Linked DNA regions of Homo sapiens. The protein of the gene in region 6 interacts with the protein of the main gene of each other region in a pairwise test. Each region holds a gene or a part of one and is shown on either strand. Other genes may lie near its edges.

Region 1 (4,232 bases), on a different chromosome or scaffold from region 6:
CCTCCTGGGTAGCTGAGACTACAGGCATGCATGACCATGCCAGGCTAATTTTTTTTTGTAGAGATGGGGTTTTACCATGTTGCCCAGGCTGGGCTTGAACTCGTGGCCTCAAGTGAGCTGCCTACCTTGGCCTCCCAAAGTGCTGGGATTACAAGTGTGAGCCACTGTGCCCAGCTCACACCTATAATCCCAGTCCCAGCATTTTCTTTTTCTTTTTGAGACCCAGGTCTTGCTCTGTCACCCAGGCTAGAGTGCAGTAGCAGGAACATAGTTCAGTCTGCAGCCTTCACTTCCTGGGCTCAAGTGATTCTCCCTCCTCAGCCTCCCCAGTAGCTGGGACCACAGGCACGCACCACCATGCTCAGCTAATTTTTGTATTTTTTTGTAGAGATGGTATCTCGCTGTGTGGCCCAGGCTGGTTTCAAACTCCTGGGTTCAAGAGACCCTCCTGCCTCAGCCTCCTAAAGAGCTGGGATTGCAGGCGGGAGCCACCGCACCTGGCCTCATTCATTCAACAAGCATCTACAGGCCGGGTGCGGTGGCTCACGCCTCTAATCCCAGCACTTTGGGAGGCCGAGGCGGGTGGATCACGAGGTCAGGAGATCGAGACCATCCTGGCTAACACGGTGAAACCCCGTCTCTACTAAAAGTACAAATAATTAGCCGGGCGTGGTGGCGGGCGCCTGTCATCCCAGCTACTCAGGAGGCTGAGACAGGAGAATGGCATGAACCCGGGAAGGTGGAGCTTGCAGTGAGCCGAGATTGTGCCACTGCACTCCAGCCTGGGAGACAGAGGGAGACTCCATCTCAAAAAAAACTAAAACACAAAAAAACAAGCATCTACCAAGCACCCTCCATGAGCCAGGCCCTATGCTAGGAGCTGAGACAGCAGTTGTGAACAGGAGACCCTGGCTGCTCCTTGCTCTTGACTCCAGGACCCCGGAATGCCCTGCACCCCATCTGCCTTCCCCGTTCCCTGTGTCCATCTTCTCTCCCTAGAACCAGAGGCTCCGTGGCTACTCACACTGGACATCCAGCTCAGCTCCCGGGCCCCTCTGTCCAGTACCAAGAATGTTTTCTGCCACACAGGAATAAGTCCCAGCGTGCCAGGGGAGGATCTTTGGGATGTGGACTTTCTCCTCTGTCCTTCCCTGCATTTCTTTCCCATTGTGGTACCACGTGTAATTTGTTGGAAGAGGATTGGCCAGTGACATGCAAAGAAACTCGACTTGACTTCCCTCCACAGCCGGTGAGTGGAGGATCTGAACCGTGGAAGGTTCCGGGGCATCTGGAAGAGGGGGCAGAGGCGAGTGGAGGGGTGAGGAGAGCACCCCCAACCTGTGCACACGGCCCCGAGAGCCCCCGTGGCTCCCCTCTCCGGGTCCACCCCTGCTACCTCCCTGCCTGGCCTGTCCCCAGCTCCGAGGGGCTCACACTGCACTTGCAGGAACACTTCTTCCGACCTTCCCGGGCCCACGTCATTGGAGACCTGACAGCAGTACTTCCCACTCTGGTCCTTGGTCACTTCGCGCAGGTTTAGCGTGAATGTATTCTGCTTCTTCAGCGAGGTCCCATCCTTGAGCCAGGATACCGTCGTGTACTCCGGGTTGCTGCTGCTGACCTCGCAGGTCATGGTCACAGAGTCCCCCTCCCTCACTATGGCATCACTGGGAGTGACCTTGATCTCCAACTTCGGGGTGTCTGGAGGAGCAGAGGGGCAGTCGGGGAGGGGGCGGGGAATCCTCAGAGGGTGGAGGGTGTGGAAAGTGCTTTTATTCTGACAAAGCCATGGCCTGCCAGTCCCTTCACCCAGGTGATGGTCACAGCCTCCTAACTCGGCTCTCAGCTTCCCCCTCCCACTTCCTCTACTTCTTGGTCTCCACCAGCAGCACGCAGGGTTCCTAACACCATCTACCAGACCTCGCCAATCCTGCTGGAAACCACGAGCGGGTTCTGTGCTTTGCATAGAATCCCAAACCCTCACCTCAGCCCTCGGGATCCAGAGTCCTGCTCCATCTCCTGCCTCCTGTCCTACCATGTGGCCCTCAGAGGCGGTGAACTTCAGCCTCTGAGGTCCTCCCACCCAGCTGCTGCCTCAAAGCTTTGAACCTGCCCTTCTCTTTCCCTGAAATCCTCCTCTCCCAAATATGTGCCGGCCTCAGCCACTCCCTCCGTTCCAGTCAGCTTAAGTGCTCACCTTCTTTTTTTTTCTTTTTTTGAGATGGAGTCTCACTCGTCACCCAGGTTGGAGTGCAGTGGTGCGATCTCAGCTCACTGCAAGCTCCGCCTCCTGGGTTCATGTCATTCTCCTGCCTTGGCCTCCCAAGTAGCTGGGACTACAGGCGCCTGCCATCATGCCTGGCTAATTTTTTGTATTTTTACTAGAGATGGGGTTTCACCATGTTAGCCAGGATGGTCTCGATCTCCTGACCTTGTGATCCCCCCGCCTCGGCCTTCCAAAGTGCTAGGATTACAGGCGTGAGCCACCGCACCCGGCCTAAGTGCTCACCTTCTTAGAGAGGTCTCTCTCCATCACTCCCCTCTCTCGGCCTTATTTTTTTCCTAACACACATATCACTACCTACAATAGTGTTGTATATTTCTTTGTTAACATTGCTTTGTTCCAGATTCTAATGTCTTGGCTCATGCTCTGTATTTCTTTGGTAATCCATTTGTTGTCTGTCTCTTTCACTGCAGCGCTGGCTCCGCGTGGGGCAAGAGTTTTGCTCACTGCTGCACCCTGCCCACCGCCCCATGCCCCCCATTGGCAGCCGTAATAAGGCCTGGTACCTAGTAGGTTCATGATACGTATTTATTGAATGAATGAGGCACAAGATAATGATGCGAAAAAAATCCCCACCAAGAGGGGAACAAAAAGACCTAACCAGATAATCCCCAATTCATGTCATGGCTTGAGGATGGACCATTTTATTCTGTTAGGCTAGAGCAAATCTTTTTCCCGAAACACCAGGGCTGACAAGGCGGCGTGACCAGGGCTGGAGGATGCCGCCGTCTGTGCAGGCTTCCCCCTGCCCTGGGTGCATGCCCCCTGCGGGGCTGGGGAGAAGGTGACACAGACCTTGCCCTTCCCACAGGCATGCCGGGGAGACTCACGCTTCACGTTCAGCTGCACCGTGTCATTGGAGAGGAACTTCCCATCTGCATCCTGAAGCTGGCAGGTCACAATCTTCCCATGGTGACTCCACTGTGGGGAGAACTTGAGCTCGCTCCGGGTGAAGACAGACTTGATGGTCAAGGAGGTCGAGGTGACAGCAGCCTGCCTCATTGGAACCCCCTCTAGGAGCCACTGCAATTGGATCGGATACCCATAGCAGGAGAAATTCAGCAAGCAGGTCAGAGTGACTTCCTGGGACTCTTGAATTTCTGGAGGGAGCTGGATATGAGGTGGAAAAGGCCTTTCTGCAAAAGAACAGAGCCCGTGCAGGAGCCTGGGGGACTGAGGACGTGAGCGTACACCTGGCTTTAGATGTCCTGTCCCAAATCACCCCTCAGGAACCCCTTGCCACTTCATTCCACCTCTCTCCAGTCCTGCTTTGTTTTTTTGTTGTTATTGTTGTTGTTGTTGTGTTGTTGTTTTTTTGAGATGGAGTTTCCCTCTGTCACCCAGGCTGGAGTGCAGTGGCGCGATCTTGGCTCGCTGTAACCTCTACCTCCCCAGTTCAAGTGATCCTCCTGCCTCAGCCTCCCGAGTAGCTGGGATTACAGGTGCCCACCACCACACCCAGCTAATTTTTCTGTATTTCTAGTAGAGACAGGGTTTCGCCATGTTGGCCAGGCTGGTCTTGAACTCCTGACCTCAAGTGATCCTCCCGCCTTGGCCTCCCAAAGTGCTGGGATTACAGGTGTAAGCCACCACACCCGGCCTCTTTTTTTCTTTAGAGACAGGGTCTTGCTTTGTCACCCAGGCTGGAGTGCAGTGGCGCAATCCTAGCTCACTGTAGCCTCAACCTCCTAGGCTCAAGCAATCCTCTCACCTCAGCCCCCTGAGTAACTGGGACTACAGGCATGTGCCACCACACCTAGCTAGTTTTTTAAACATTTTGTAGAGACAGGGTCTTGCCATGTTACCCAGGCTGGTCTCAAACTCCTGGGCTCAAACGATCCTCCGATCTCAGCCTCCCAAAGTGCTGGGGTTACAGGCGGGAACCACTGCACCCAACGCAGTCCTGCTTTTCTCCACTTTGAATCACTTTTGCTCACCCGAAATCCCC
Region 2 (4,232 bases), on a different chromosome or scaffold from region 6:
CACCACAGGTCATCTGGGCTGCAAGCGGGTGGGCATGGGGTGAGGATGAGACTCCTTCCAGGAGTGTGCCGGGAGGGTGGGGAGAGTGAGGGAGCAGCCACTGAGGGGGTCACACGTCGGGGTGGTGTGAGCAGCAGACACTGGGGAGGGAAGCTGGGCTCCAGGCCAGGCAACTCACTGCAGTTGGCGGGCTCATCACTGCCATCCACACAGTCATTGTCCCGGTCGCAGACCCAGACCCGGGGGATGCACCGTTTGGTAATGGAGCACTGGAACTGGTTGGGGGCGCAGGTCACCTCGGCTGTGGGGTGGGCAAGAGAATGAGGGCCCTCCCTTACACCTGCCACTCCAGTTCACCATCACTGTCTTCTCTCTCTTCCAAGCCCTGGCCTTGGTCCTGCCAGCAACTTCTTCGGAGGAAGGAACAGTTTATCCCCAGTTTTGGTGCTTTTTGTTTTCTGGATCTCTATGTCTCTATATCATGCATGATGATTTTTATGAGCAAAGCAAGTTACACCCAATATAATTTGTGTTGCCCATCTACTAAAGTTATTTGAGAGCCTCTCAAAGCTGTGGGGAGATTCTGCCTGCCCTGCTTCCGTGTCATCTCCCACCACCGGCCCACCACCACCTCTGACACTCACGGCAGTCCCTCTCATCCTCCCCATCTCCGCAGTTGTCCTGCCCATTGCAGCGGAAGATGCCGGGAATACAGCGGTTGGTGTTGGTGCATTTGAACTGACTGGGCAAGCAGACGTGGATGTCTGTGGAGGGAGGAGGAGGTGATTCGTGGCGAAGGGAGGACTCAGGGGCAGGGAGAGGGTGCCCATCCCTCAGCAGGGAGGACACAGGCTTGAGCCATAGGAATCCAGCCTGGAGAGCAAGCTGCCGTGGGCTGCAACTTCCCTGCACTTGAAAGCCCCAAATCCTGGGGCAGGGAAGATGCTGGGGAAGGAGGGAGGGTGGGCGGGCAGCGCCTTACCACAGTTGGCCTCGTCACTGTTGTCCTGGCAGTCATTGTCGCCATCGCAGATGAAGGCAGGGTTTGTGCAGATACCTGTGGAGCACTGGAACTGTCCGGGCCGGCACTTGAACTCAGCTGCCAGAGAGGGAGGCTCAGAGTCAGAGCGGCTGGGGTGGACACGGCCAGGTCCACTTGCAGGGCACCACAGCCCCAGCCTCTCCAGTGGCCATTCAAAGCCTCAGGAGTCAGGCCTCCGACACAGCTGGGGGCCCTCCTGTCACCCCCAGCAGGCACTCACGGCAGTCCGGGGGCTCGTCTGAGTGGTCCCCGCAGTCGTCCTCGGTGTCACACTTCCACCAGAAGGGGATGCACTTGTCGTTCTTGCATACAAACTGGAGGGCAGGTGGGGGCAAGAGGGGTTGGTGGGGGTCTGGGGGACTCAGAAGTCTTTCTTTTGAGGGGCTTGGATGTTTCAAAGAAGTTGAGGCAGGGGTCAGGGTGTTATGGGGCAGGTTGGGCTATGGTGAGTTCGGAAAGGCCAGGTATGGGGCTGCGTGGGATAGGGTGGGGAAGGCAGCACTGAAGCATGGCAAGGAGGGTCAAGGTTAGGGTGTGGAGGTGTCTGTGTGAGGTGACGGGGGTAAAAGTATTGCTGTGGGGAGACAAGAGGTAGGCAAGAAATGTGGGGGTGTTAGTGTGGGAAAACCAGATGCATGAGGACATTAGGACAGAGCAGGTGTTGGGGTCCAAGGAGGATTTGGGGGTTGGGGAGCGGGCACTGGTGATGGGGTCTGGGGGACAGCCTCACCTGGCTAGCCGTGCAGTTGGACACACAGGTGCGCCCATCGCTGCCCAGGTAGAAGTTGGTGGGGCAGGCACATTTGTGCCCTCCCCCGGGGGACAGCAGGCACAGGTTGCTGCAGCCACCATTGTTGACCTTGCAGGGGTGATTGGGCACTGCCAGAGAAAACGTCGTGAAATATGGTGACATTTTCTGGCCTACCAAAGGCTGCCTCACTCACTCTATCCTGGACAGAGGCGGGTGGGTCTGAACCCTGCCTCTTTTAGGAGGGAGCTGAAGCTGGAGATAGGAGAGGATTCTAAGGTCCCAGGATCAGGCCAGGCCTGAAGGCCAGCTCCCCACCTCCTCTGTGCTTCCCTCCCAGGGGCCGGCCTGCCTTCCTTCTGGGGGCTGGGCACCCAGACCCCCACTTGACTGGCCTCAGGGACTTGCTGCTGCCAGACTCCAGGGCTGGATCCAGGCCGGGCTGAAGCTCCCGGGAGCCAGACCATCCCCTGTCTAGACCCTCCTGGAGTCTCCCAGTGTCTGGCCAGGAGGGCTTGGTCAATGCTAGAGAAGGGATGAGCAGGAACTCCCAGGGACCCCGGTGCCTGGCTCACCGTTCGCCTGCTCCCACCCCTTGCCTGCTCACCGTCTGGCTGGCGCAGGGCATGGAAGACATGCAGGTCCATGGGCCGGTGCAGCGTGCTGATGAGGAGCGTTTTGTTGGTGCCCGTGGTCTTGTGGGCTCGGTTAATGGACTTTGTTTCCCAGTCGGTCCAGTAGACGTAGTCCTCAAACAGGGTCAGTGCAAAGATGTGCGGGATGTCCTGGCTCAGCACTGCAGGGCCAAGGGGCAGGCACAGTGCCAGTCAGCCGGAGCTCGGACAGGGTGCCGGCCCACTCCACCTCCTCAAGCCCTACCACCACCCTGAGAGGTGGGTGTCAGCCCCAGTTACAGATGGTTCATGGTACAGACCCCCCATGGTCTCACAGCTAACAAGTGTCAGAGCTGGAGTTCAAACCTAGACTGCCTCATGGCAAGTTCCTGCCCTGCCAGTGTATGGCTCCCCTCGGGAAGTGGGGAGCACTGCAGTTCTCAATCGCAGGCCTCCCACCCCCACCCTCCTTGGGGCCAGTCCTCCAGAACTGTGTATACAAGGGAAGGGCCTCTCCTCTTCCTTCCCAAGGGAGCTGGGTGGTGGCCAGGCTGGGGAAGCCCCCGGGGTGCTCTGAACCCCACACCCCAGTGAGTGGTGTCCTCAGGCCATATCCTCCGCTTTTTATGTCCACTCTTGCCCCCAAAACTTGATCCCCTGTCGCTTCAGACCTCCATCCCCACTGAGTCTGCTGTGCCTGGACAGCCTCACTGGCACACTGACCAACGTGGCGATTGGAGCCATCCAGGCTGGCAAATTCAATGTAGTCCTCGCGGGCGTCGGCCCAGTAGATGCGCTCAGTGACATAGTCCAGCGTCAGGCCATTGGGCCATGTGATCTTGGTGTCCACGATGACGCTGCGGCTGGACCCATCCATGCCGATGCGGCCGATCAGTGAATGGTCACCCCAGTCTGTCCAGTACAGGTACCTGGCGATGGGTAGGCAGTGAGCCCTGGGAGATCCCGTAACCCATCGCACCAGTGGCCTGCAGGGAGGCTGGGCTTGGATGCTGCTTTCAGGGGCTCCCCCAACCCTCCTCAGCCACATACCCATTCTGCACATCCACCACCAGAGCCCTGGGCTCACGGAGGCCAGAGCTGACCAGCACCGTCCGATAGGCCCCATTGAGCTTGGACACCTCGATGGTGTCCCGGCCTTTGTCGCACCAGTACAGGTTGCCACCCACCCAGTCCACAGCCAGCCCATCGGGGTTGCTGAGGCCTGTACGGTGTAGGACCTGCAGGAAGGGGCAGGGGAGGGAGAGCTCTGGGTGACCTGGGGGAGGACCTGCAAGCCTCTGTGAGGCTCAGCCTCCCCTCGTGTAAAATGGGGTAGAGCTCCCTCTGACAGCTCTGGTGGGAGAACCATGGAAGTAAAATGCCCAGTCCTGGGCCTGACACTGTGTAGGTGTCAGCAGAGGCTCTAGGAGAGGGGGCTCTAGGTGAATGGGACCACGCCCCAAGCCTCACAGTGCTTGGCCAGACCTCACAGGGAACTTCCTGATGATTAAGGAGACATGAGGCTGGCAGCGAGGGGAAGGGCAAGAGGAATCTCCCAGTCCTTGCTGTCTGGGCCCAGAGGAGAGTGAGCAGCTAGAACAAGCAGTCATATAGTGACTAGTGGAGTGAGAAGGAAGCAATTTGGGTTGGTGGGGCGGGAAGGAGAGACGATCTGAAAACAGTCATCTGAGGCGGGCCAGTGTTGGTCGCCGAGGGCCGCCCGCCTCACCTGCACATTGCTCCCGTTAAGGTGCATCCTTCGGATCATGCTGCCCTGGGTGGTCACATCTGTCCAGTAGATCATCTGCTCTCGGTAGTCAAAATCCAA
Region 3 (4,232 bases), on a different chromosome or scaffold from region 6:
GGATGAAGTGATCCCAACTAGTGCTACTCTTGCAAATCTACTCAGACAACACCTGAAGACTTGTCGCATAAATGGTTGAGAAACTCCCATTTCTGGCCTCTTCTCTTCACCTAGGCCATGTCACCTTTCTCTCTCTTCAAATCCAATGAGTAAATGGGATTACAAGAACAAAACAGAACAGACCCACAAGGCATGTGACAGGCCAAGACCCTTTTTAATTCAAGAGATGAGCTTCTTGAGCAATTTTAAAAGAAATATTCATTCAAAAACAAAACCTATTTTCCAAGCACACCCCAGCAAAGCATTTTAAGATCCTTACGTATTCATCGTGCTCTCACTTAAAGTCAAGGTGCAGCTCTCATTTCCAAGGAGAACTCTAGTTTTCTTTAAATCAAATTTATTATTCCTCCGAAATCCAAAGTCCCAGCCACATATGGTCAGCCTTGTCCCTCCTTCAAGGGGTGCACTATTTGGGAAAACCTACAAGGACAACATAGAACTTTTAAAAAAACCCAATATATTATAATTTTTCACATATATGGAAAACGAACAAACAAAATGTATATCCTTAAATAGTCTGAAATTCTTTCATTTTCCCACAATTTAGTAAAAATTTAATTTTCACTAAAGGGAAAAGGGTCACAAATTTCAGAGCATCTGGAACAAACATTAAAACTACATGACATGTTAATGAAACAAGTTGTTTTCAGGAGATCCAAAGATGGGACAAAGAGCAGATGCAGCTTGGTAGGAATAAAGGGGCTTTTCGAGTCCTTCCGTTCTTTCTTTCTTTTCTTTCTTTCTTTCTTTCTTTCTTTCTTTCTTTCTTTCTTTCTTTCTTTCTTTCTTTCCTTTCTCTGCTTCCTTCCTTCTCTTTCTTTCTCTTTCTTTCTTTCTTTCTTTCTTTCTTTCTTTCTTTCTTTCTTTCTTTCTTTCTTTCTCTCTTTCTCTCTCTCTCTCTTTCTTTCTTTTTCTTTCCCTCCCTTCCTTTCTTCCTTCTTTCTTTTCTTTTCTTTTTCAGACAGAGTCTGGCTCTGTTGTTCAGGCTGGAGTGCAGTGGCGTGATCATGGCTCACTGCAGCCTCAACCTCTTGAGCTCAAGCAATCCTCCCACATTAGCCTCCTGAGTAGCTGGGATCACAGGCGTGGGCCACCATGCTTGGCTATTTTTTTTTTTTCTAGAGACAGGGTCTCACTACGTTGCCCAGCTGGTCTCAAACTCCTGGGCTCAAGTGATCCTCCTGCCTTGGCCTCCCAAAGTGCTAGGATTACAAGCATGAGCCATTGGACCTGGCCCTTTTTGGGCCATTCTGAAGTGAATTCATCTTCTAGGGCTCTTTAGGGTAGGAGTAGAAACACGTTGGGCCCAGACTTTTACTTGCTCATAACTCTGATTGTAACTCTTCATCAGCCTTCGGACTGAGCTCTTATCAAACTCCTTCATGTGCTCTATAAGCCAAGGTCCAGCCATTATACGCCTTGCTCTGTGCACTGGCTGCGTGCACTACATTCTGGTTGCTATGGTATTCCCCACCCAGAGACAAAAGTTGCACAGTAAAAATACCTCATTTGGTATCCAGTGTTTGCCCAGTTGCATTCAGCAGCTAGCATAATATGAAACATATAGATGGTTTTGGAACACATATCTGCCAATAATTCATTCATTCATTCATTCATTCATTATTTACTTATTTACTTTTAGAGATGGGGGTCTCACTCTTGCCCAGTCTGCAGTGCAGTGGCATAGTCCTAGCTCACTGCAGCCTCAAACTCCTGGGCTCAAGCAATCCTCCCGCCTCAGCCTCTCTAGTAGACAGGACTACAGGTGTGCGCCACCTCACCCAGCTAATTTTTAAATTTCTGTAGAGACGGGGTCTTGTTATGCTGCCCAGGTTTCATTAATTATTTCTTAATAAAGCACCTCCTATGCACCAGGCACTAACAAATGAAAAGTGAATCTACTTCTTTTTACCTATTAGTTCACATTTATTAATGACTGAAGATTTTTCCTTGTTCTTTAAATATGGTCACTATTTGATGTATACCAGGCTGGTTAGTTGACACACTCAGCCTTTTAAAAATTATGTAATATTTAATACATGTGTTATGTTGTTTCTTTTAGAAATAGATAAAAACGGAACCAGAGAGGGCCCAAAATCAGTATTGTAACAATTTTTCCTAATTATCTTCATTGGTATTGTTTTATATCTCATTTTTAGGATTAAATTTTTCCCCCTGATGGTTGATGTTAAGCAAATAACAGACTCATTTTGTTATTGCAGACTCATTTCTGGTATGTTATCAATGGATTTATTGATAAACCTTGGTCAGTCATGATTTAAGACCGCATTAGGCACCTATAAAGTGTGTAAGATAATTGCTCTCAGGCTAAAACTATTAAAACAAAACACATTTCCAAGTTAAAAATAAGCTTCTTCTCAGCAGCTTTGTGACAATTGAGAAAGGAAATGCTCTTTTGGGGGTGGGGACATATTGTAAATTGTGCTGTAAAGTACAATGGTGGGAAAACTAAGATAGAGGCAACTCAAGAACCAGTAAAGGTATTTGCTAAAGCTCAGCTTGTGAACATCTAAAAGTGATTCTTTTACAATTAAGAAGGGCTTTTAGCCAAATTCAAACTTGCAAACATTTCCATCCTTCCTAAGTAAATAATTGCAAACCAAAGTCTTAATGTACCCTCGTTATCAAACCCCTTTAAAGTTTTAGCTTAAAGCTTTTATGATAGCCATTTTACCCATAAAAATCCATTACACTGTTGTGCCTTTCCTGAAAATTTACCTCATCCATGTCTAGTCAAATGAGAACTACTAGAAAAATAAATCTGTTTATTATTATTATGGTAGAAATCCAGTAGGAGAGAACAAGACATCCAACCCTCCCAGGACTCTCTTCAGCCTGAGGCAGTCACACAGCTGCTGCCGGCTCTTCTAATGAGGAGGCTTCCCCACTGAAAACGCTGCCCAAGGCTGATGTTGGCCTGATCCCACTGCCTACATCCCGTCTTTCTATGTAAAAACTGAAGTCTGTCACTCTACACACATCATTACCATCACTTTCTATAAAAGGCAAACGGATTGGGTGATGATTTGAGAAAAGACGCAGAGAGCTGCGCAACTGGGGCACTGGCAATAGGAAGAGATATTATAAGCCCTCTGCTAGACCCTCAGGATCCAAGAGGCTCGCTCTGCTTAGCTTTTCTCTCTGGGCTGGGCATTTTCCCCTTAGCTTATGGGGTAACCTTTACCCTTCTAGGGAAAAAGGAAGGAAGCAGTTGTGAACTACACACCCTTGGATAGACCCAACAATGGCTGGCAAACTCTGAGTTATCCTGAAGGGCAGAGAAACTCTGTGGGCAGGAAATGAGCGTCCGGCATAAAGCCACAGAGGCTGGGTCTCCTACCTGTCTGGATAGGGGAGATACAGCCACAAAAGTAGCCCTTGTCTTTTCACAGGTGAAAGATCACATCACTGATGGGCCCATTCCAACAGTATTTTAAATGATCATGCTTTCAAAACCCATTAGGATAAAACATGAGAAAACTAAAAAACAAAAACAAAACAGAACAAAAAAACTCCAAAAGGGGTCTCCTTTCCTCTTTAGTAGAACTCACAAATATATTTACTGGTGGCAGTATACTGCCTGCCTACCCTCCTATCCCTATATAATACTGCTTTTCTGAGTATTCTGATCAATGAATAGTTCTGTTGTCTCACTGGGGTTGAATTTTCTTTCTTTCTTTCTTTTTTTTTATTGAGACAGAGTCTCGTTCTGTCATCCAGGCTGGAGTGCAGTGGAGCAATCTTGGCTCACTGCAAGCTCCGCCACCCAGGTTCACGCCATTCTCCTGCCTCAGCCTCCCGAGTAGCTGGTACTACAGGCACCTGCCACCATGCCTAGCTAATTTTTCCTATTTTTAGTGGAGACAGGGTTTCACCGTGTTAGCCAGGATGGTCTCGATCTCCTGACCTCGTGATCTGCCCACCTCGGCCTCCCAAAGTGCTGGGATTACAGACATGAGCCACCACGCCCGGCCTGAATTTTCAACCTTACAAGATATGATAACTGCATCCTAATACATTCAGAATATATTAAAAAGTGCTCTCCCTTTTCTGAAGCATTTCTCATTGCTCTTTAAGTATGAGATCAGATACCATGTTTGAAGCAAAATAATGGGCTTACAGTCCTGAAATCTCTCATATCTAGAACTGTA
Region 4 (3,853 bases), on a different chromosome or scaffold from region 6:
GATTCCGACAAAGGACTAACACCCAGAGTCTACAAGGAACTCAAACAATCGGCAAGAAACAAACAAACAAACAAAAAACCAAATAATCCCATCAAAAAATGGGCAAAGGACATGAATAGACAATCTGAAAAAGAAGATACACAGCCAACAAACATGAAAAAATGCTCAACATCACTAATTATCAGAGAAATGCAAATTAAAACCACAATGTGATACCACCTTACTCCTGCAAGAATGGCCATAATTAAAAAGCAAAAAAATTACAGATGTTGGTGTGGATGTGGTGAAAAGGGAACACTTTTACAATGCTGGTGGGAATATAAACTAGTACAACCACTAAGGAAAACGGTATGGAGATTCCTTAAAGAACTAACGATCTACCATTCGATCCAGCAATCCCTCTACTGGGTATCTACCCAAAGGAAAAGAGGTCACTAAATGAAAAAGACACATGCACACGCATGCTTATAGCAGCACAATTCACAACTACAAAAACATGGAACCAACCTAAGTGCCCATCAACCAACGAGTGGATAAAGAAAATGTGATATTTATACATCATGGAATATTATACTCGGCCATAAAAAGGAAAAAAATAATGTATTTTGTAGCAACTTCGATGGAGCTGGAGGCCATGATTCTAAATGAAGTAACTCAGGAATGGAAAACCAAATATCATATGTTCTCACTTATATAAGTTGGAGCTAAACTATGAGGATGCAAAGGCATAAGAATGATATAATGGACTTTGGGCACTCAGGATGGAAGAGTGGGAGGGGTGGAGGGATAAAACAAAGACAACATACCAGTGTACACTGCTTAGGTGCTGGGTGCACCAAAGTCCCAGAAATCACCACTAAAGAACTTATCCATGTAACCAAAACCCACCTGTTCCCCAAAAACTACTGAAAGTTAAAAAAACAAAAACAAACAAATCTGTTCTTTCAGGAACAGATCTCCAAAAAACTTAAATGGGAAAAAAATGCTTTACCCGAGCCATTGCTAATAAGAAGAGCAAAATTAAAGTGAGAGACTGAAGTCCGTATATTTAAAACAAGAATGGGCTGCTGGGCCACAGACAGAACACAGAGCAAACGATGTGTACTGAATCAAGAGAAAGGCAGGCACACACATCCAAGGGCTCCCGGACTAGCAATGGCCATCAGCACCACGACTGTCATCTGACCGTATCTGCTACTTGTTTTATAGTAAACACTGGAGCCATTTTTCTCTGAAAGTTTGTATAAACCTAGGCCTGTGCTATACCATTTCCCACTACACAGGACCAAGAGAACGGAGAAGTAGGTGTTTCTAGCAAGAGGGTCCCCTAGTGAGCAGTTCTCATAAACCTAGGCCTGTGCTATACCATTTCCCACTACACAGGACCAAGAGAACGGAGAAGTAGGTGTTTCTAGCAAGAGGGTCCCCTAGTGAGCAGTTCTCAAGCCTCTTGGCCTCAAGCCCTGCCCTTTACATTCTTAAAATTATTAGGGACCGAAAACATTCTTTATGTGGACTAATATCTATCATTATTTACTATATCAGAAACTAAAACAGAAAGTTAAAAATATTAATTCATTTAAAAATAAGTATGAAAAATGAATATAAACAATATATTTTGAGGAAAAAAATTATATTATGTAAAAAAATATTTTTAGTTAAAAAAGTGGCATTGTTTTACATTTTAATGTCTAGATTTGCAGAAGACAGCTGAATTCCTGTATCTGCATCTGTGTTTAATCTGTTGCAGTATGTTGTTCTGCTTGAAGCAGATGAAGGAAATCCAGCCTCACACAGATATGTTGCTCAAGGGCAGACCCTGCACACTCCCTGAAAGGGCCCTAGGGAACCAAAGATCACACTTTGAGAACTGCTGCTCTTGAGGCAAGACTGGATTAAATTTAAAGGCAACAATACTGGTAAGTCTAATTTTGTATGCTAAAAGGTGTGACAAAGGGCATTATTTAACCTGAAAACACAATTGATTTGGTGAAGTCATCTATGCCCAATCCTGTTTTTCACCCGACAGAAGTCAAAGACAGATCATCCTGACGTGGCATAGCATACGTTTACCCTCAAAAACACTGTGGAGGCCAGGTGCAGTGGCTCACACCTATAATTTCAGCACTTTAGGAGGCCGAGGCAGGTGGATTGCTTGAGCCCAGTTGTTCAAGACCAGCCTGGGCAACATGGCGAAACCCCATCCTCACAAAAAAAAAAAAAAAAAAAAAAAAAATTAGCTGGTGTGGTGGCCTGAGCCTGTGGTTTCAGTGAGCCAAGATCACACCACTGCACTCTAGCCTAAACAGAGTGAGACCCTGTCTTGGGGGTGGGAATGGTAGGGGTTGGGAGTGCTCTGTAAAAGTGTTCAAGTGCTCCGACCAAGGCAGGTAAAGGAATGCACTCTTGTCTCCTGATAAGCTGGCCTCCTGGATCCAGGGCCCCTACTTTCAATAGACGAGAGACGGAAGGACAGTACAGGCCCACTCTGTAGCTACTTCTGGCTTGTCTTGATTATATATTCCAAACTTCCTGGCTTTGTTGGTGTCAGGACCTGGCCCTTAATTAACATCACCCACACCAGTGCCACCAGGTTCTAGCAACAAAAGTTCTGTCCGCTCAAAGGTCAACCAGTGCGTATTATTTAAAACTAAAATACTGCATCCTAAGTGAGTGCTTCCTGAAAAACTAAGCATCTGCCTTCCCAAAAAGGAGCTTTCAGCAAGCAGGAGAGCAGACTAGGGAACACCACACTGTTTGAGACATTAGTCGTCCCTTCCCTCACCACAATGCAGGCTGAATAAATCACTGCAGTGGCCCTGGGCAGTTAGGCAGGTGAAGGATAGAAGCAGATTCATGTAATAAAATTCTGTGTCCTTTCAACAATACTATCACCATACAATCAAATGAATCTTCAAAGAATGCTCCCAGAAGATGGACAATAAGTACATCTACACTATCTTGTTCCAAAAGCATATCAGATTAAGTCCTCACAAATTAAAATTCCTATCAATTGTAACCCACCCTTTCAATGTCCCTGCCAAGAGGACCCGCCTTGATTAGTCTCTCTCTTCAGGATATGAGTTCTTTGGGGACCCACAAAAACCTCACAGTCTAGGTAGCTGCCAAGTAATTGCGCCCTATGTAGATAATGAACTTGTGGCTGCCGTAACTGTTGACACTGTGTGTCTTGGAGTTTGACTGAGAAGATTAGGATCAGTGTGTCTGAAACCTGTGTAGGAAGCAGCAAAGCACCGGCTCAGGCAGGATTCGGCTGGCCCTTTTGACTTGCGGGAAGGTGCAGCTCCTAACCCTTAGACACACTGGCCGTGAGACACAAGCATTCCAAGGAAAAAAGAAAAGAAAACAAAATAAAAACCTGCTCCAGGGATCCCAAGGTTACACTGAGTGAAACACAGACAAATAGATAAAGTCAGCTTTAGGAACTAAGGTGAAATTAAATTTTGTTTAAACTTTAATGTCTTGTTTACATGCGATGAGAAAGAAAGAAAAGTGAACAGTCCTCAAAACAAAACACCTCAAACCAACCAACCAACCAAAAAACACTGGCAACGTTTCTGTATTTTGTAACAGAAAGGGTAGGGTCAGTCTGTAAAGGGAAAAACAGTGTCTGTGAATATAGCTGTAGACAGGTTAGGTGAAATTCATTCAGAAACAGAAGAGTTTCAAATGGGCTAGTTTAAGGGAAAAAAGACGCTTTACCTAAGAAAACTTTTTTTTCTGAAATCCCACCAGAAATGTAAGATTTAAGCCTTTCAGACTAAAGAATACAAAGAATATAAAATATATTTTAACATATTAGAAACATTTTATATTCTTTGTTGTCTTTGTT
Region 5 (4,232 bases), on a different chromosome or scaffold from region 6:
AATAATAAAAAAGTACCCGAGGTAGAATTCCACTTGTAAAATTCTTGAGCCCTCTAGTCACTCAGCTCTTTCCAGGATAGGCACCCCAAATCTCAGTCCCTCATTCAAGATTTGTAAGCAACTGTCCCTGGGCCTTTTTCACTCAGAGCCTTACTGCCCCAGTCAAGTAAAATTCGATTCCTTCTCTGGGTCTGTTCTTTCCTAAGTCCCTAAGCCTGGAGGGTTCTGCGTCCCTCCTTTCATTTACACAGAAATACTGTTTCTTTCAAAAGCCTACATTTTGCAATTTATTTTCCTTTCAGAAGCTTTCCTTCACTACCTCTTACCCAAACCTTGAGCCCCTCTTTCTTCTTCCATGTTCCTTGTAGGACCTGTGCTAAGTAATTCATTTGTTTGGTACTTGTTCATTGTGTTTTGTGACTGATTCTCACTTGCATTTCATAGGTAATGATAATTACCTTGGCTATTTCCTAACTTCATAACCTATTTATGCTTGAGGTTGCAATTTTTTGAATGTTTGCAATCAGACCTTGGCGATGACCTTGAGCAGTGGGATATAAATAACTCCCACATGCTTAGCGTTCCAATAATGGAACACTAGGCATAAATGGGATAATCTAATATAGTTTTTTGAGACGGCATCTTGCTCTGTCGCCCAGGCTGGAGTGGAATGGTGCAATTGTGGCTCACTGTAGCCTCCGCCTCCTGGGTTCAAGCGATTCTCCTGCCTCAGCCTCCTGGGTAGCTGGAACTACAGGCGTGTGCCACCATGCCTGGATAATTTTTGTATTTTTAGTAGAGATGGAATTTCACCATGTTGGCCAGGCTGGTCTTGAAGAACTCCTTACCTCAAGTGACCCATCTGCCTCAGTCTCCCAAAGTGCAGGGATTATAGGTGTGAGCCACTGTGCCCGGCCATAATCTAATATAGTTTTAAAATATATTTTTAAATAGCACCTAAAGAATTGGGTTGAGCTACATAAAAGTGCTTTTTTTTTGAGACGGAGTCTCGCTCTGTCGCCAAGGCTGGAGTGCAGTGGCGCGATCTCGGCTCACTGTAAGCTCCACCTCTCGGGTTCACACCATTCTCCTGCCTCAGCCTCTGGAGTAGCTGGGACCACAGGTGCCTGCCACCAAGCCCGGCTAATTTTTTTTTGTATTTTTAGTAGAGACAGGGTTTCACTGTGTTAGCCAGGATGGTCTTGATCTCCTGACCTCGTGATCCACCCGCCTCGGCCTCCCAGAGTGCTGGGATTGCAGGCATGAGCCACCGCGCCCGGCCAAATGTGCTATTTTTTAATAGGTGAAAAATAGTAAAATATCAACAGTGTTATATGGTTAAACTGAATATTTATATTGGAATTCAATAAATGTTCTTAAAATGTCTTCTTGTCACCTTTTACTTCAGGATATTTAAAAACTGCCCCAATATGTCTAAGTCTGTCGCTCTAAAACTGGTAAACAGCTTCTCCCCAAACTAATTAAAGGATTCAGTGCTTTTTCCAAATGTCAAGTTCCTATTATAAAAATAAAACATTATATTGTGTAACTAAAATAACAAAGAATTGTATGACATTTCTGGAAATGTAGCAGAAAAGAAGAATTCAAGTTGAATAGTAATATCTTGAACTTACCTTCTTCTGTTGGATTAAACCCACAGATGTCACAAATACAACGAACCCACTTATTCATCTCCTCCTCGCTGTCTGCTACCAAGTAGAAAATCCGGTCAATAGTGTTGATATCAAAAATGTAGCTGTTTTCAAACTCTTTTTTGTTAAATGTCAATCCAGCATCTACTTGTTGACATAAATTTAAATCAATAATACGAATAGGCTTCTTGGCATGATCATTTTTGTAATATTCCAAAACATCTGGATCTCCAGTTAAACGGCCACTGCGTAACACGAACCATCTCCTCTTCCATGCCTAGAAACAAAACAAAAATATCCATTCAGTATTAACTTGAGATAATGTTTTCAAGAAGATGCACATTTATCAAACTGATTTTACAAATGCATTGTTTAGAGAAAGTCACAATATGTGTGTGTTTGTGTGTGTGTTTTTACCACAGGATAATCTGCCACTCTGAAAAGCAACGTTTACTCATAACTCAATTAACTTAATAATGTATATATATATTCAGTATGTTCGATTAAATCTCCTACTATATAATATTGAGGCAATACATCAAGGAGGATTCAGTTTTTACTAAATATGAAAAAGTCATGGTTTCAACAAATGGTGTTAGGAAAACTAGAAATCCATACGCAAAAGAATGAAGCTGGACATTATGCTAAGTGAAATAAGCCAGTCATAAAAAGACAAATATTGTATGATTCCACTTATATGAGGTAGTTCAAGTAGTCAAATTCATACAGACAGAAAGCAGAATGGTATTTGTCAGGCCCTGCGGAGGGGGAGGGGTGGGAAATGGAGAGTTATTACAGTATTTAATGGGCCTAGAGTTTGAGTTGAAGAAGATCAAGTTCTGGAGATGATGGTGGCCATGGTTGCAATGGTGCTGTGAATGTATTAATACTTAATGCTAGTGAATTGTATATTAAAAATAGCTAAAATGATAAATTTTATGTTATGTATATTTTGCCACAATTTTTAAAAAAGCAACAGATTTTCATGCATTAATATTATGCCATAAAGAATACACATAAAGCTGCTTCTTCATAAGACTCCTACAGATTTTAAACACTTAAAAGATTTCTCTTTTTTTTAGGTGCGGTGGCAAGGAGTAGGGAGGGGGAAAGGTTTTGAAGCTTTTCTGGCTTCTTGACTGGGAAGCAATTGATTGTGTCTCTCTTTTAGCCACACAGCCTGTTGTTCAAAGACTATACGAGTAAGACCTGTATTCTTGAGTATGGGATTTAACTCTTTCTAATATTTCCCCTCCTCTTCCCAACAAACATACATGGGCAATCTGTAATACACTCACCACATACCCCCTCCACAAGTTCTGGTAAATTTTGAGTTTAATACTATACCTAGAGAAGCCTAAAAAATTATTTTACTATCACCCTCCCTAAATCTATGGTCACCAAATAATAAAAGCAGAACCAAATGACAAACAGCCTTCCTTATCAGCCTTTAACCCCAACATGTGTGCCTGGAAACAAACTTACACCTTACTCCTCTTTGAAATTCTTCCTCAGGGAGGCAGCTAGACAGAAAAGAGGCCTATTTTAGCAAGTCTCAGTCATTTACTAAGAAACATTCTCTGCTCCAGATTCAACATTCTAGGTAAGACTACCTCAAGAGGACACTCTGGGCCTGGGTGCAGTGGCTCATGCCTGTAATCCCAGCACATTGGGAGGCCGAGGTGGGCAGATCACCTGAGGTCAGGAGTTCGAGACCAGCCTGGCCAACATGGTGAAACCCCGTCTCTACTAAAAAATACAAAAATTAGCTGGGTGTGGTGGCAGGTTCCTGTAATCCCAGCTACTTAGGAGGCTGAGGCAGGAGAATCGCTTGAACCCGGAGTTGGCAGTTGCAGTGAGCTGAGATCACTGCGCTCCAGCCTGGACAGAAGAAGACTCCTCCTCAAAAAAAAAAAAAAAAAAAAAAAAGGGCAGCGGGGTGGTGGGGATGCTCTGGGAAGTGGAAGGACTCGAAAACCCCCAGTGGAATAAAACATTCCCTTTGCTACTTGTGGGAAGAAAAACAAGTATATAATTCATTATTCCTACCTTCAAAGAATTGACTAATTGTGGAAAAAAATATTTAACATACATGAAAATACTTGAGACTACAGCAACCCAGGCAAAATGTCTGCAGAGGTATTGCTACATGAACAAGCATTCCTCTACAGAAAAATTTAGGCAATCCTTTAACAAGAGGATGACCAGAGATCACAAAGGCCTAAAAACATTATATAGGTCTTTAATCATCAACATTTTAAATTAACTTCTCATTCTTCACGCAGCTCAAAGGAATAAGTATATAATTTGTGTCCAGGGAAGGCAGGGTAGAGTCCTATAGATGTTTTAGATAATATTGAAAAGTCATAAAGTGTTGGATTCACATGATTTTAGCACTGTTTTCTGGACTATAAAAATCCATTCATTGAATATGCATCTACTTACTGCAAAATAAATAAATATCATCTCTTAGTAAAATTATCCCTCTATGGATACTTCCCTCTCAAGCAGTAAGCTTTAAAAAGTAATGCAGAAGTAAAGCAAAAGAATATAAAATATGATGTTATTTATGCAGGGCCC
Region 6 (4,232 bases):
AAGTTTGAGACTCTCTTGCATAAACCATAAGCCTCAGTGTCAGGGACATGTGCTGTGAGGACACATGAGATGTCAGTCTGTACAGGGCAGATAGGGAACAAGGCATGTTCATCAAACAAGAGCTGCACCTCCCAGCCTTCTGCATGGGGTTTATATACATCTCCCAGAAAGGAAGGAGAGAGCAAAAGTCATGGCCATGAAGGATGCAACTGCTGTTTTCGGGAATAGACAACTCCGAAAAAAGAAACAGCTTCGTGGCCAAAGAGGCTATGAGCAGGCTTCTTAACCAGCAGAAGTTGGCCAGCCTCATCGTGTGGATTATGCTATTTTGGGTTGACTTCACATGCCAAGATGCTATGTGCATGGTCCCATGACATTCATGTTGGAAATTATTGCTGAGATGGTAAGAAGCCAAACCTCAGCAAAAATAGCCATAGGTGCCTCCACTGAGGGGCAATGTCTTCCCTCCCCACAGCATTCTGCTGCTGGCTGGGGCTGCATCCCACTAAAGACCATCACTCTAGGCACTGCCGCGTGGCAACCTGGGCCACTCTTCCTTCTTCCTTTTTTTTTTTTTTTTTTAAGAGTATTGTGGTCAATTTTTCTTTTCTTTTTTTCTTTTTTTGAGACAGGGCCTCACTATGTTGCCCAGGCTGGTCTCAAACTAGCCTCAAACGATAGTGAGATCATAGTGAGGATGAAGCGATCCTCCTGCCAGGAGTAGCTGGGACTACAGGTGCGTGCCACTGCACTCAGCTAAGATCATTTTTAAAATACAAGGTATGACAGTGAAGTCTGAGGAAATTCCTTTGAATAGATGGACAGGCAGAGAAAACGCTTCTAAATCTAGGAAAAGTTTACGAAGTCGGCTGGGGATTCACCAATTGCCAAACCATGAGGCTGCATCGCTGTTTCTGGTTATGTTTCCAAGGTAAGCATCTCTGTAGGGACACTGAGAGGTGACCAGGGGATCATTTCCCCCAGGGACAACTGCCCCACTGAGCCACCTTGACCAGACCCCCTCGAGGGAACAAGGTTGACACCTCCCAAAGACAGTTCTTTACCTTCTCTGGACAACTGACTGACCACGTTGGCCTGTATCTCAGAACCTTCTACAATTTAGATTTACACTGAACCACTGAGGATAGCAAACAGAACCCAGGATTCAGACAGACCCTCTAATGACTGTGGGCCTAAGGCTGAAGTCTTCAAACCTGCACTCACCACTCATGGATGCTACTCCCAGGAACTTTTCCTTAACATCTTTCCTGTTGGCATCTTGTTTCATGTAAAATAGAAGTAAAGTCTGAGATCAAGGGGGTAGTTTGAGTAAAAAAACTGCAGTATTTTAATTTTAGTTGGATAACCACAGAATGTGCTATGCAACCTATAATTTGCCATTAAAAGGAGAATATGGGGCTGAATCACATTTTCTTTAAATATTACATCCCTCGGTGCCCAAAAAGAGTGTTCATTTTAGAGTTAGACTGGGCAAAATAAACACTGGGTCACAAGTGATAGCTTTGGTTAGAAATGTCTTTAGAACAGGCCAGCATGCATGTTGTCAAATGGCAATGCATGGCCTCTTCCCAGGGTCATGTGGGGCCAGTCACAAGGAAGCTGAATTATTCCCAATTGTCCACACAGGCCTGGTGGCAGGAGGTGAGGGGGAAGGCACGATACTCACAGGAACTTTCCATTTGTCTTTGATCCTATCAGGACAATTTGCTCAGATTCTTCCCGAGAGATTTTTCCATGGAACCAAGGCATTTTTTCATGGGCTGTGGTAGCGATCAGCTTCTCCAGCTGAGGCTTCTGACTGATGATGGCCTGCTCCAGAGCCTGACCCTGCCACATGGAGAGCAAAGCAGAGTAAACCATACCGAGGAAAAATGAAAATGATGCAGAAGGCATTTCCAATCTATCTCGAGTCCTGGCATGGTAAAACAGGATCAAAACTTATTCACTCATTCATTCAGTAAATAAAACCAGAAAGACCTTTACACATTACTTAAGTACTTTCAAGTGTATAAATAAAAATAACATGGCCGGGCACGGTGGCTCACGCTTATAATCCCAGTATTTTGGGAGGCCAAGGAGGATGGTTCACTTGAGGTCAGGAGTTCGAGACCAGCCTGGCCAGCATGGTGAAACCCCATCTCTACTAAAAATACAAAAATTAGCCAGGTGTGGTGGCACATGCCTGTAATCCCAGCTACTTGGGAGGCTGAGGCAGTAGAATCGCTTGAACCTTGGAGCCAGAGGTTGCATTGAGCTGAGATCATGCCACTGCACTCCAGCCTGGGTGACAGAGCAAGACTCTGTCTCAAAAAAATAAAAAATAAAAAAATAAACACACATATCCTTTGCTGTGGCAATCCCAACCCTTTCAAAGTTTATCCTGCAGACGTTGCATACAAGTGTAGTATACGATAGGTCTAGAGCAATGTTGTTAGCAGCGTTTATTCATAAACAGCAAATGTGTCCATCAATAGGTACTAGTTAAATAAATTGTGGTGCATAGCAGGTGATACCAGATAGCCAAAGAACGGGTGATGCAACTATATGAGTGTTGACACAGAAAGTTCTGCAAGAGATATTAGGAAGCCATAAAATCAAGTGCCTATCAGTGTGTATGGTAGGACCTTGTCAGATAAACAGAAACCAATCAACACCTATCAATGCCTCTCTGAAAAGGCCCTCCTTGCACTGGGTAACAGTGGTTCCCTGCTGTGGAGAAACCCACACTGCTGGCACAAAGGGACCCACCCTCTCAGCTGTGGCTGTGAAAGAGGAAAGGCTCTTATCAGAGAGAGGCATTTTTTGGCCAAAATTGATGCTTAAGGAGATGGTTGTGTTATTTGGGCACACAGGGCACATAGGCACATGTGTTGCATGTAGCCAGGAAGTCTGTGTGGGGTCACAGGGCCCCCTGGGCCCAGGGAGCAGGACCAGCTGTGGCCCACCTGCAGGTTCCATGTCTGCTTCACATATTCCCTGATGAGGTTTTCCTTCAAATCCTCAAAGGGCCCAGTCTTGGGCTGCACCCCTTGGGGCCGGTTGAAGGGCTTCTTGAGGAGGCAGACCAGGCCATCAGACTCCTGGGAGTGGTAGTGGCAGAGGTCGGCGGGGCTGGCATGGGTCCTGCCACCGGCGATGGCGTAGGTGCCATTCAGCTCCCGCTCGATGGTGTAGTGGTGTGCCTTCCTCCCGTGGGCCACGGACAGGGCGAAGCCACCCAGGTAGTTGCGGCTCTGGCGCAGCAAATAAAGCCCATCACTCATGCCCCCCTGGACCAGGTAATCTTCTGCCTCCTCCCGGGTGATGTTGCCGAAAAAGAAGGGCAGGTGGTTGGCGCTGTCAGCCATGCCGCTGCTGGCCATGCTTCAGGGGCCGGAGGGCACACACCTGCGCAGGTGTCCACCTGGGCAAGACAGAGACAGAGAACTTTGGTGAGGACCCCACGTGGCAGGGAACGTTTGCTAAAACCACTCAAACCCTTTCAAAGTGGAGACAAACCCTCCCATCTCTGAACAAAGGCACTTCCCTCTTTGGCCCTCCCAACACACAGTTGTCTTTCTGTTCACATCATCATTACAGTTTTCAGCATGCCTTCTAACTAAGCTAAAATCAGAGCATTTGATGGAAGTGACCAAATTAAATAATTCTTTTTTGGGGGGAGTGGGGAAAGACAAAGAATTCTAAAAATAAACATACCGCAAAGAGAAGCAAACAGAAGGGCTATTGCAAAACAGGACTCTTGGGCTGACCCTCAGGGTCCCAGCAGCATACAGGAGGCAGAATCTACATGAGAACAAACCAACTGCTCCTCCTGAGTCCAGACAATGTTAGAGAAGCCTTGCTCCTCATCACAGTGATATTACCAAGGAGGACGCTACCACCACCTCACCCACCTGAGCTGCGAGACGCTGCCTCGAGCAGTCAGTCACACGCTGGTGCTGAGCCCCAGAGGTGAAGTGAGGCCACGTTGAGGGCCCACACGGAACTGTGACTTGTGGTCACCATAAGGCCTTCCCACCTCCAGCCCGGGGCTATGATAGCAACAAGCCACTGCCTGAGACATGAAGAGTGACACCCTCCCTGGCTCCCGAGGCCTGGGGCCCATAGGCTGTCTTCTCCCCGCTTCTCCAGACCACTTCCTGGGCAACGCCACTTCCCATCTGCAGGGCCCGTGCTAAAGAGATAGTGCCGGTTCCCAGCCCACGAGGACA
Region 7 (4,232 bases), on a different chromosome or scaffold from region 6:
CACTGTACTTTCACATGGCCTACAGAGAGTGAGAGAGCTCTCTGGGGTTCCTTTTATCAGGACAGTATTCCCATTCATAAGGGCAGGCACCATCATCATGACCTAATCATCTCCCAAAGGCCCTACCTCCTAATATCATCACATTAGGGGTTAGGATTTCAACACATGAATTTTGGGGGGACGCAAACATTCAGTTCATAACACTCTTGTTAGACTGTCACTATTAGAAGTGGTAGTGTCAAGTTCAGCACTATCTCTGGTCTTCCTTCTCTACTGGAATAAGTGGGGTTGTATGATTTTATAATCCATAAAAGTTGTGATAGCAGGTATATTGCAGTTAGGAACTTAGAGACTTTTAAATTTCTCCCTCTCCTTTTCATGTGGTTCTCTCTACACTTTTATTCTTCTCTTACTTTGAAGTTGTATTTTTCTTTCCCTCTTTCTCCATCCACTGGTGGCATATCCTTTGCAAGTTTACATGTTACAAGTCCAGCTACACTTAGTGATTAACTGACCATCTGCGAAAGCAAAGTTAGATTCCAAGAGAGAGTGTCTGACCCTTTTTGGAGTTGGCTGTCTGAGGTAGATACCTGTGCTGTTCTAATGATCTGCGGTGAAAGGAATCAAAGCATTCAAACACAACAGTTGGAGGCTCTACCTTAGTCCACATTGGTTCATCTCTTAGCATACTTTACCTTTCTTTAGTCAGACAAAAAATTTGGAGATACTATGTAAATAGATTTTCAAGTGATGTTGTTAGTTGATAAATTAAGTTATATAAGCTAGGGATATTAGACTGCCTGTTGTGCTGTTAATGAGCCATATGACAGGTAAACAGAGGGTAAAGTTGTTGTAGACCGTAACATCCTATTCTGTCTCTGCAGCTCTTGAGATCCTGTGGTTCAAGATTGTAGTCACCCTGTAGTGCCTTTTTTGATCATATTTAGGTTTGTCTTAGCCCCAGAGTTTCAGTAAAATTTGTCCTGGGAACTTTCTGAACTGTGGCGTTGAAGTCTTAATGTGAGAGTTGCCCTGGTATATTTTTTTTTCAGAGAAATACCTTACTTAACATTGTTGTTCCACCAGTATTTTGGTCTGCCTGTGTTTTTTAGCATTTGGGGCCTGAGGGGTTTTAAAACAGCCCTGGTATGTGGAGAATGCTAATCTAGAAGCAGTTTAAAGGACAGGATCCCACAGGAGAGGGTGGTAATAGCTGTGCTCCTTTAGGTCTGTTATTTGTGTTGTAGCAGGCAGAAGCCTATATCCCCTATTTGAGTTTACTCAAGACTGAGAAGAAATACAATTCCTCTCAAAGAGATTTCATCCAGTTCTTAGCCTGTTTGAGAGCCAGTTTTGCTTAGCGCTGAAGAACGTGGGTGTAGGGCTAGATTAGCTCTGCCACTTAGTATCTTTGAAACATCTGTTCCTCAGTTTCCTCATCTGTAAAGTGGGGATAATAATAGCCCCCAGTTCTTATATTTGCTTTGAGGATTAAATAAGTTAATACATGTAAGTGAGATAAAACACTGCTTGTGACATTAGTTAAGCACTCAATGATTACAAAGAGATAATAAAAAAATTAAAATCCTTCGCTGTTGCGTCAAACTATGAGCAAATGAGTTCATTTTTGTCTCATGTATAGCATCACATTTATATTCTCTCTGTGTATATTAATATATACACACATATAATATATAATACATAATACAATATGTAATATATTAATAGTGTGTATTAATATAGAATATAATTATATATTCTATACAATATTTTTCCTGTACTTTTCCCTTAATATTATATCATGAATATGTTGTTGTTATTAGTTTTTGGAAATATAACCTTCCATGTCTGTGCAGTATTCTATTATATGGTTGTACTATGTTTATTTAACTTAACCCTTGTTTTCCAAAATTTATTTCAAAAAGTTGCTATTCAAAACAGTGTTAAAAATGAGTATTCTCCATCACAAACATCTAACATCTCTGGTTACTTTTTTTTCCTGGGGATAGTTTTCTAGAACTGAAATGATTAATAAGCTATCTTCTCAAAGGGATTTTGGTAGCTTGTTTTGGTTACTTCCATCCCATTCCTATTTAAATACGCAGAATCAAGGCTAAGCTACTGGCTGCACTTTTCTAAATACTTTTATTACCATAAGAATGTTGCATTTAGAGATTAATGAGAATTTGAGGCAGCAGAGTATAGCAGCAAGAAAATGGAATTAGAAATCAGACAGATGTCTTTAAATCTCATTTTTATCCCTTTTTGGAATGTTATTTTGGGTAACCTGTTTCAACTTTTGGAACCTCATTTCCTAATCTGTAACATAGAAATTATTTAAAAACCAAAATTTCAAGGTTGTTGGATGAGTAAATGAAATAAAGTCTGTACAATGCCCAGCCTGTCACAAGAAAAGCACTAACTGGCTATTAGTCTTATCCCAGGTTCTTCAGCATTTTACTGTGTGGCACACAGCAACATAGAAGAAGGTATCTGTACTTTGGAAAAATTTATAGTCAATTTGGGGAGCCACAGAAACATAGAACCAAGGTGACAGTGATAAAGCTGCATGTTATCCCATGCTGATTAATTCAATGTGGAGAGAGTGTGGAATAAAACAGTCGTTAGAATAGTGTGGATTTGTAAATGCACACTCAGTTTCTACAGATTCCACCCCATAGGCCCACTTCTGCCAAGACACAATCAGTCATGTGGGATTTGACAGGTAGGAGGTAGTCTGCTATAATAACCAAGTTTTAGAACAAAAGAACATTCTTGTATCTGCTCAATAAAGTCAACGGGCTGATATTTAAGACAGCTGTTTTGTGTTGGGCATGATAAAACAGATACTGCTGTAGTTGCCAATACAGGCTGAGGTAAGGCAAGTAGTTATTGCCTGTAATAAAATAGGATGTATTTAAAAGGTGCCTGACCCAGGGACCAATGATGTTCACTCCCTGATACACAATACCTTAATATTGGCAAACTTAATGACAACATTCAGTGTTAGTGCCTCTCCAGCCAGGACCATTAGCTACCAGACATTCTTGTTCAAATTGTGAGGGTTTTTGTCAGGTTTATTCTGTGAAGAATAATGTTGCAGACCTTCTGAGGGAATCATCAGCTGATTTTCTGAAACTCTGAAGAAACAAAATATCACTGATAGTCCCCAGCAAATATTTCTATTTATTAGACAGTAAACGAATTCAAATATAAGCTATTTTAATGAAGCCAAGAAACATGCAACTTTTGGATATTTGCCATCTATTTTCTTTAAATTAATCTCAAAATCTAACTCTTTGTCAGACAATGTATAAAGTGGTTAATGTGGGCTAATTCATTCAATCCTTGCAATTCTGAAAAGAGGTGATGTTATGTCCTGTTTTACAAGTGAAGAAATTGAGGTTTAGAGAGAGTATAAGTAATTTGGTTTAAGTCACGTATCTAGTAAGTGGCAAAGTTGAGTTCCTATCCATATATGTCTAATTCCTAAGCATAAGCTTATGACCATTAGCTATATTATGTTGTTCTTCCATAAATTCTTTATTGTCGGCTTGAAGAGTGGAGCTCTTTTCTGTCAATACCAGTGTGTTAGTAACTAAAAGAAATTATAAAGCTTAGGAGATGCAATTATAATAGATCATATCAACACTACTCTACCACAAAGGATATATTTCTCTGAGGATGCAAAACACAGAATGCTTTCCTGTTTTTCTGTTCCCTACTGGTGAGAGCTTTGAGTAGAGCAATTCATAGGAGTGGCATAAACTTTAACCATGTGATGTTTTATTTCCAGTATTGATTCTTATCTTTTTCTGATGCTGAGTTACCTAATGAAGATGTAGGAAATTAAGTAATGAGAAGACTATTTAGCTAGAAATCAGCAGGCAGGGTGAGATGAAAACTAAATACTGGAGAGAGGTGATAGTCTGGGCAAATGAAAAGTAAGAAAAGTTAATTGAAATGACTATGTGACATTCAAATTTACCAGTGGAATTGAGAATTGACCTCAGGCCCTACAATTTCAGTCCAGTGCTTTCTTAGCACTGGGGAAGTCACCGTTTAACTTGCTAGCTTTTCAGTAATACTTAATTCCAGAGTTTCCCTTCATGGCAAATTCATTCTTCAGAATTTCATGTAAATAAAATAACTACTTCGATATTAATATCAGTACATTATTCTGAGCTATATGAATTGTGGCATGAGTTTGTAAAAGTCAATTTTTTCTTACC

Evidence for each region.
Region 1: the proteins of SYK (region 6) and CD22 interact in binary tests that used the Homo sapiens proteins (3 or more experiments, as listed by UniProt).
Region 2: the proteins of SYK (region 6) and LRP1 interact in binary tests that used the Homo sapiens proteins (3 or more experiments, as listed by UniProt).
Region 3: the proteins of SYK (region 6) and MET interact in binary tests that used the Homo sapiens proteins (3 or more experiments, as listed by UniProt).
Region 4: the proteins of SYK (region 6) and BLMH interact in binary tests that used the Homo sapiens proteins (3 or more experiments, as listed by UniProt).
Region 5: the proteins of SYK (region 6) and GAB1 interact in binary tests that used the Homo sapiens proteins (3 or more experiments, as listed by UniProt).
Region 7: the proteins of SYK (region 6) and CPNE8 interact in binary tests that used the Homo sapiens proteins (3 or more experiments, as listed by UniProt).

The regions. Positions count from the first base shown.
Region 1 is NC_000019.10:35,335,224-35,339,455, reverse strand, and holds part of CD22 (B-cell receptor CD22 isoform 1 precursor), read right to left. Parts: intron 3,421-4,232; coding exon 3,115-3,420; intron 1,702-3,114; coding exon 1,435-1,701; intron 1,289-1,434; coding exon 1,025-1,288; intron 1-1,024. UniProt on the Homo sapiens protein: Most highly expressed siglec (sialic acid-binding immunoglobulin-like lectin) on B-cells that plays a role in various aspects of B-cell biology including differentiation, antigen presentation, and trafficking to bone marrow.
Region 2 is NC_000012.12:57,197,566-57,201,797, reverse strand, and holds part of LRP1 (prolow-density lipoprotein receptor-related protein 1 preproprotein), read right to left. Parts: coding exon 4,134-4,232; intron 3,643-4,133; coding exon 3,455-3,642; intron 3,334-3,454; coding exon 3,128-3,333; intron 2,587-3,127; coding exon 2,398-2,586; intron 1,922-2,397; coding exon 1,773-1,921; intron 1,357-1,772; coding exon 1,263-1,356; intron 1,100-1,262; coding exon 983-1,099; intron 765-982; coding exon 645-764; intron 302-644; coding exon 179-301; intron 19-178; coding exon 1-18. UniProt on the Homo sapiens protein: Endocytic receptor involved in endocytosis and in phagocytosis of apoptotic cells. Required for early embryonic development. Involved in cellular lipid homeostasis.
Region 3 is NC_000007.14:116,751,603-116,755,834, reverse strand, and holds part of MET (hepatocyte growth factor receptor isoform b preproprotein), read right to left. Parts: intron 481-4,232; coding exon 320-480; intron 1-319. UniProt on the Homo sapiens protein: Receptor tyrosine kinase that transduces signals from the extracellular matrix into the cytoplasm by binding to hepatocyte growth factor/HGF ligand. Regulates many physiological processes including proliferation, scattering, morphogenesis and survival.
Region 4 is NC_000017.11:30,250,324-30,254,176, forward strand, and holds part of BLMH (bleomycin hydrolase), read right to left. Parts: intron 1,911-3,853; exon of another isoform or gene 1,751-1,910; intron 84-1,750; exon of another isoform or gene 1-83. UniProt on the Homo sapiens protein: The normal physiological role of BLM hydrolase is unknown, but it catalyzes the inactivation of the antitumor drug BLM (a glycopeptide) by hydrolyzing the carboxamide bond of its B-aminoalaninamide moiety thus protecting normal and malignant cells from BLM toxicity.
Region 5 is NC_000004.12:143,413,174-143,417,405, reverse strand, and holds part of GAB1 (GRB2-associated-binding protein 1), read right to left. Parts: intron 1,930-4,232; coding exon 1,635-1,929; intron 1-1,634. UniProt on the Homo sapiens protein: Adapter protein that plays a role in intracellular signaling cascades triggered by activated receptor-type kinases. Plays a role in FGFR1 signaling. Probably involved in signaling by the epidermal growth factor receptor (EGFR) and the insulin receptor (INSR).
Region 6 is NC_000009.12:90,843,050-90,847,281, reverse strand, and holds part of SYK (tyrosine-protein kinase SYK), read right to left. Parts: intron 3,425-4,232; 5' UTR 3,384-3,424; coding exon 2,967-3,383; intron 1,849-2,966; coding exon 1,688-1,848; intron 1-1,687. UniProt on the Homo sapiens protein: Non-receptor tyrosine kinase which mediates signal transduction downstream of a variety of transmembrane receptors including classical immunoreceptors like the B-cell receptor (BCR).
Region 7 is NC_000012.12:38,895,128-38,899,359, reverse strand, and holds part of CPNE8 (copine-8), read left to right. Parts: intron 1-4,232. UniProt on the Homo sapiens protein: Probable calcium-dependent phospholipid-binding protein that may play a role in calcium-mediated intracellular processes.